2 separate regions of the Homo sapiens genome follow, and region 1 is linked to region 2. The links come from fine-mapping of genetic effects on gene expression. A gene starts in region 2. The other region holds a variant in brackets. All regions are shown on one strand. Distances are between the middles of the regions.

Region 1 (2,921 bases), 50 kb after region 2:
ACTCCATCTCAAAAAAAAAAAAAAAAAAAAAAAAGAAAAGAAAACAACTTAAGTCTTGTAGACTTGAAATCATGAGATCCATATATTTGGAGAGGAGAGCTTTGTTTCTTATAAAGGGTTTCCGCCTGCAGGCTGGCCACCCTGCAGACTGGGAAGCATAGCCTCCAGCAGAAATCAAAAGCAGGTACTTCAATGGAAGAAGGATGAGACAGGAATTTATACTGGACAGGATGGCTAAGTATACATATCAACAAGTTATAAAAAGAGTTATGAATATTCACAAGGGACACACATATGCTAGTAAGCAAACATACATATTACATATGTCACATGTTCACTTTAGGATGGAGAATTAACATTTAAATGTATTAAAATTAGGCTGTATACATTAAAAGATGACAGACATCTTGTGGGCAGCCTCTGTATCTGGCCAGAACCAGTCCATGGCTGGTAGTAAAAAATCAGAAAGGAATGTGCTATGAAACTGGTGAGCTGCTGTGTAGAAACTACAAGAAGGGAGAGGATTCCAGCTGCAGTGTCCAGCAGTTGGCTGAAATCAGCAAAGGAGTGAGTTTTCATTTCTTTATTTTTCCAGGGCCAGTTTCTGTTTAACCCTTAGAAAATAATCTAGTAAAGATTGGCAAGGAATGAGGTACACCAAGAGGTACTCAACCTCCCACCTTGTCATGACCAGGAAACTCAATTTTTCAAAGTTTTTCTGGAGTCTTCTTGGGCAACAGGTGTCTGCTCAGTCAGTTGCAGGGCTTAGGATTTTATTTTTATTTCACAATCTTTACAAAAATGTAAATTGATAAATAAGATAGAATATCTATGTAACGAAATTATACTCTGCAACACGGAAACATATGAAAATAATTATGCTGAATATAAGACGTCAGATGAAAAAGAGTTCATAGTGAATGATTCCATTGTATATAAAATTTCAGAAAATATAAATGAATCTATAGTGACTGAAAGCAGATTAGTGGTTTATTGGGTTTGGGGGATGCTGGGGAGTGTTGAGAGGGAAGAATTACAAAGCCTGATGAGAAAATATTTGGGAATCATGTCTGAGCTCATTATCTTGAGTGTAATGATAAATTCTCATCAGATGATTGATAGATGACAGATACATAGATAGATAACTAAATATGTTATGTCAACTATAGCTCGTTAAAATTATTTTGAATACAACAAGATAGTTTGAACAGAATTCTAAGTACAAGGTAGAAAAGAAATTTATGTTATTGGAGGACAAAGGAATTGGTGATCACTGAGAACTGGAGCAGGTACCGGAGATATTTTAGAAAGTATGAGACTTAGGCTGTATGTTGAAGGCAATGGGTGTGTTCATGAAGATAATTTATGATTCAAAAAATGGGCCCTGTTTTTGGATGATGTCAAACACCACCAGTTTCCTATCACTGTACATAGAAAGAATACGCCTCTATATGGTGCAAGCAAAAAACAATTGTATTCAATTTCCCTTTTGCCCATTCAAAACTTTCTCACGAGGCTAGTTATTTTCTGTTCCTGGGTGACATCTACAGCAGTCCGCATGTTGTAGCCTAGTCGTAGTTCAGGAATTAAAATGTCCAGATAATTTAATTGTCTAAACTCCCAATTTTATTTCTGGTCAGTGATCTTTCTTCATCCCTCCTTGTTGTACCTTTTCAGGTA[C/T]GGAGCCTGCAATGAAAAAGGGAATGTGTCTCCATCATTTCTATTTTGTAACTATTGCTTCTTTTTGTCCCCAGGTTTCTATCCTCTATAGCATAAGAAGAATTAGAAAAAAGAGCAGTGAGCGAAGAAACATTATGACTTGTCTGTTACTGTTGTGATCCTGCTTTAGGAAACGTTTACATCTGACTCTTTCACGAAGTCCTACTGCACTTCCCCTGACTTGGATAATAAATTGTATTATTTTTCCCTTCCCACTCAGTCTTAGATTTCTGAAGATATATCCCTTTGGTTGAGATCATATCAAACCTGCAGATGGTCCTCTTCATCACAGTTGAAATCAATCTCTGACCCGTTATTTCTCACTTGGCACAATCCCTGTATCACAAAAAACACATTGCAGGGAAGTCTGTGATGGCTGCTTTGCCGCTCTCTTTTCCTGTTTCTCTCAGAGATTGCTCAGGAACCTGTATGTTCTGTTTTTTGACTTCAGGAGCTGTATATATATATATATATATATATATATCTCCAGGAGACATATGTATTGTATATATATGTATATACATGTACATGAATGTATATATAGATACATTTATATCTTATATATACATTCATATACAGATACAGATATACAGATACATATATCTATACATTCATATCCACATACAGATATACAGATACATATACATATGTATATATCTCAAGCTCTCTAGGTGATTAGATTAAAGATCCCATAGCTGACTTCAGTTAAGGCTAGGGCACCCTCCATTCTTTTTTGCCTCTTTGAATAGAGACAAAAAAAAAATCCATAGCAGTTCAGCAACTGTATAAAAAAAAATCCTCTTAGCTCTTTAACCTGAAAAATGTTGTGCTATAAAGGATATGTAGCTAGAGTTCAAGAAACTGTTTGCATTTTTGTTTCTGCACTGTTTCCTTTGCTAGTCATATATAGGCAGTAGTATATCACCTCAGTGTGGAATGTGGAAGCACTTGCCTGCTATTGTTTTCGTCTTGGAATTTGAAGTCTCCACCAAAACTAAAAAGAAAGGTTTCCATTTGAACATCCTGTTACAAGAATGTATACTGCCAAGGATGTGATGTAATTGAATTTGACTATCAAATCTGTAGTTCTCAGAACATAGAATTGCAAGAGGCATCACTTATGAGCAACTTGCAAGAACGTGTGATTAGTTTGGGTATTTAATTTTTTGTTTATTTGCATTTATTTCAGACTCTGTGCCAAT
Region 2 (2,921 bases):
TTAAAAAAAAAAAACTGAAACTTTTTTTTCTCATGCGCTCTGCCAAGTTCCATTGCAAGTTCCAAACATTGTGCAATAATTTGGAAATCCAGTTAACGATGGGAAAAATCGAGCCACTCAGAGTCGGCAACTTGCAAGAGAAAAGTCAAGAAGCGGCACCCGCACGCACGCCTGCCCAACGGACGCTGCATCCCTGGGCGCACGCCCCTCCCTCCCCAGCGCTGGGATGGAAGGTCACGCTTCACAATCGATTTCACAGCCACTTGTCCTTTTTTATCAACCTTCTGGTAAACTAGTTTAGGACTTTGGAGGGCTTAGAGCTGCTGGCTGTATACGCATTGCTCTCGAATAAACACGTGTCCCCAAATATCAGGACCAAAGCTTCACCGCCGAATTTGGCCGCAGGAAGCCACAGAGGGCAACACATTCCCATCTTCCCTGCTGCCACCCTCCAGTGCGAGAATCTCCCCTAGTATCTCTCCGCCCCTTTTCCAGCCCGGCGCGCACTCTCGAGGGTGCCTGGCGCGCCCTTACCTGAGCTGTCGCTTTTCCTCTTGCCGCCGCTTCGCTTCTCCGCCTCCGCAGGTGACAGTGCCTGGCGGCCGTAGTCCCCCGGCGCGCACGCGGCCCCAGTCGGGGTGCTGGAGCCCAAGCTGGAAGAGTTGGAGCACAGGACGGGCGGGCTGCTCCCCAACTCTGGGGGCCCTCCAGAGTCGGGCTGGAGGCAGAGGCTGTGCCGAGCCGCACTCGGTGGGGAAGACATCTGCGGGAGGTGCCAGTTGGTTTGCAGAGCCTGGTGCTGCTGCTGCTGATGGTGGTGATGGTGGTGGTGGTGGTGGTGGTGGTGGTGCCCCCTGTGATGCTGGCTGGCAAACATGCCCTCTTCGTTGGGGTATCCCGCGATTATGCAAGATGAGGAAGAAGTAGAGAGCTCGGGGTAAGACATATGGTCAGATCTTCCATGGAGGGCGAGAGAGGATTGGGAGAACGGGTGCAAGCCTTGCGCCGTGGCGTGAGGGCTGCGCAGGCAGCCAAAGAGCGGGTGTTCCATAGCATGCAAGTTTCGGGTTCCAGGCAGAAGACTTCACGGCGGTTCCAAAGGCCACCACCCTCTGTCACTTTTTCACTGGAAACCGTGTGATTTTTTTTTTAACCTCCCAAAGCAATAGCGGTGCACTTCTGCAGAGCTCGGATAATCCCGGTCCTGAGCCCCAGCGGCCAGTCTCCTTTACATATGAACAGTCGGACCTGGAAGAGCTTCCCTGAGCTACTCAGATGTCAAGAGTGGGAGAGGTTGAAGCCAAAAGAAGGTGGTCCCAGAGAACTGCTTTCAGGGGGAAATGGCTCTGAGAAGTTATAAATAGAGTGTAACGTGAGCTGGGGGCTGGCTTAGGAGCCCAGAGTTGACCACATGCAAACTCCCTCCAAAACTCCCGCTCAGCCTGCGCCACGCGCTCCCAGTTCCACTTCCTATCTCCTGCTGGACGGACGTAGAGCGTCCACGCCCGCCCAGCACTGCCGGCTGCCAGGACTACAAGCGGCACGCCAACGTCTAAGTCCCGCCCGGGAGGGCAGCAGCTCTGCCCTCCAGACTCTGGAGGCCTGGGCGCGGCGCACACCACCCCCAACCTAGCACCCTGATTCCTACCTACTCACTTTCCTCTCGGGGAAACGTGACTTGTCAGTGTCATTTGGGAACTGTCACCTGCAGAAAAGCTAGGGATACGCCTATCCTTTCAGGAACACGAAAGAAGTAATAGGGTTAAAGGAAAAGACCAGAGCTAGTTTGGCGCACCCTCGAAGTTTTTCAAACTTTGCATCTTCCCGTGCCCCGGGCGCCGCAGCGCGCCTAGGTTTTCGCAGCTGGTTTCTGTCGGTGGGTTGTTAATAGGCTGGGACGCCAGATCTGAGGTTGCGGGGATGAGCACCATGGCCTGGAAAAGGCGGTTCTCAGTGCAGAAAGAAGACGGACCTGGTTGGGTGGGTGGGAGGAAGGCGTGAGTCTGAAAGGGTTGCAGATGCCTGCTCCCTGGCATCCTCACGTGCGATGCCAGGTGGAGGCTCCCTTCCCCCTCTTTCCCGGTCCCGCTCAATTTCCTAGCCACTTGTCCACCAAGAAGAACTTTTCCTGGGTCAAGAATATTTCCAAGCGATTGTGTCCCGGTCATATGAGATGTGTAGATTGCACGCGCATTTCTAGCCTTTCCCCTCAGGAGCTAGCCCAGATCTCCTCGGTTTCCTCCAGAAATCCACTCTCTTCTGCTCAAAAATAAATCCGCTAATGCATTCCTTACCACCAGGGTTCCATTTACTGAGAATTCTTACATTTCGATAGCTCCCAAAATTCACTCACCGTGGGCACTTGGTTACAATTTTGCACCCCTGAAAATAAAATAGAAAACTCGCCTCTAGTAAGCATGCGAGAGCGAGGGCAGGGCTTTGAAGCTGCTACTTGCTTGGCGGGCGACAGGGTCCGCTGGGGGCAGAGTCGTTTACACACAAGTGAGTGGCGCTGTAATGAGCAGGAGGAACAGTCATGTCCCATCTGCGACCTGTCGCATCAGGAGAATATCTGTAGTCACCTATTCTGCCCGGGGCCCCAAATGCGCCACCAGCAGTGTCGCCCCGTTTTTTCATTGTCTCAGGTGTCCAGAGGATGATGACCAGGTCTTTGAAGTTGTTAGTGGGATTAATGGGTACAGCAAACTGGGCTAGACATCTGGTTTGAATTAGGAAAAAGCATTGATTAATCTTTGAGAGGTGTCCCCAAAGCAGAACCTTTCCCCTCCTCTTCCAGTCCCCTTGCTTAAGCCTCACTATCTTCTTTTCTTTTAAGTCACACTGCAGAATAGTGGCTTCGCAATAACATCCGTGTGAAAGATCGAATTGTTTTCTATTGCTCAGAGGTGGGGTGGAGTGGG

Direction of the effects. Positions count from the first base shown, and alleles are read on the strand shown. Sizes are in standard deviations (SD) of each study's normalised expression.
For the expression in anterior cingulate cortex of the gene that starts at base 1,332 in region 2, T is the low allele of the variant in region 1 and C is the other (moderate effect, 0.43 SD a copy in GTEx).

What was found.
Region 1: its variant is fine-mapped to the expression of MEOX2 in anterior cingulate cortex (GTEx, PIP above 0.99). The same link has a PIP of 0.9 or more in cerebellar hemisphere, cerebellum and prefrontal cortex.

What each region holds. Positions count from the first base shown.
Region 1 is chr7:15,735,084-15,738,004 of GRCh38, forward strand. LOC105375167 (a long non-coding RNA gene) reads right to left here. Exons shown (of 3, transcript XR_927058.2): 3 at 91-1,686. Among named protein-coding and RNA genes, the nearest start is that of LINC02587, 48 kb to the left of the region's middle. The variant C/T (reference allele first, on the strand shown) is at 1,681.
Region 2 is chr7:15,685,352-15,688,272 of GRCh38, forward strand. MEOX2 (mesenchyme homeobox 2) reads right to left here and starts at 1,332. Exons shown (of 3, transcript NM_005924.5): 1 at 535-1,332. The coding sequence starts at 1,051. RefSeq lists an enhancer at 1-528.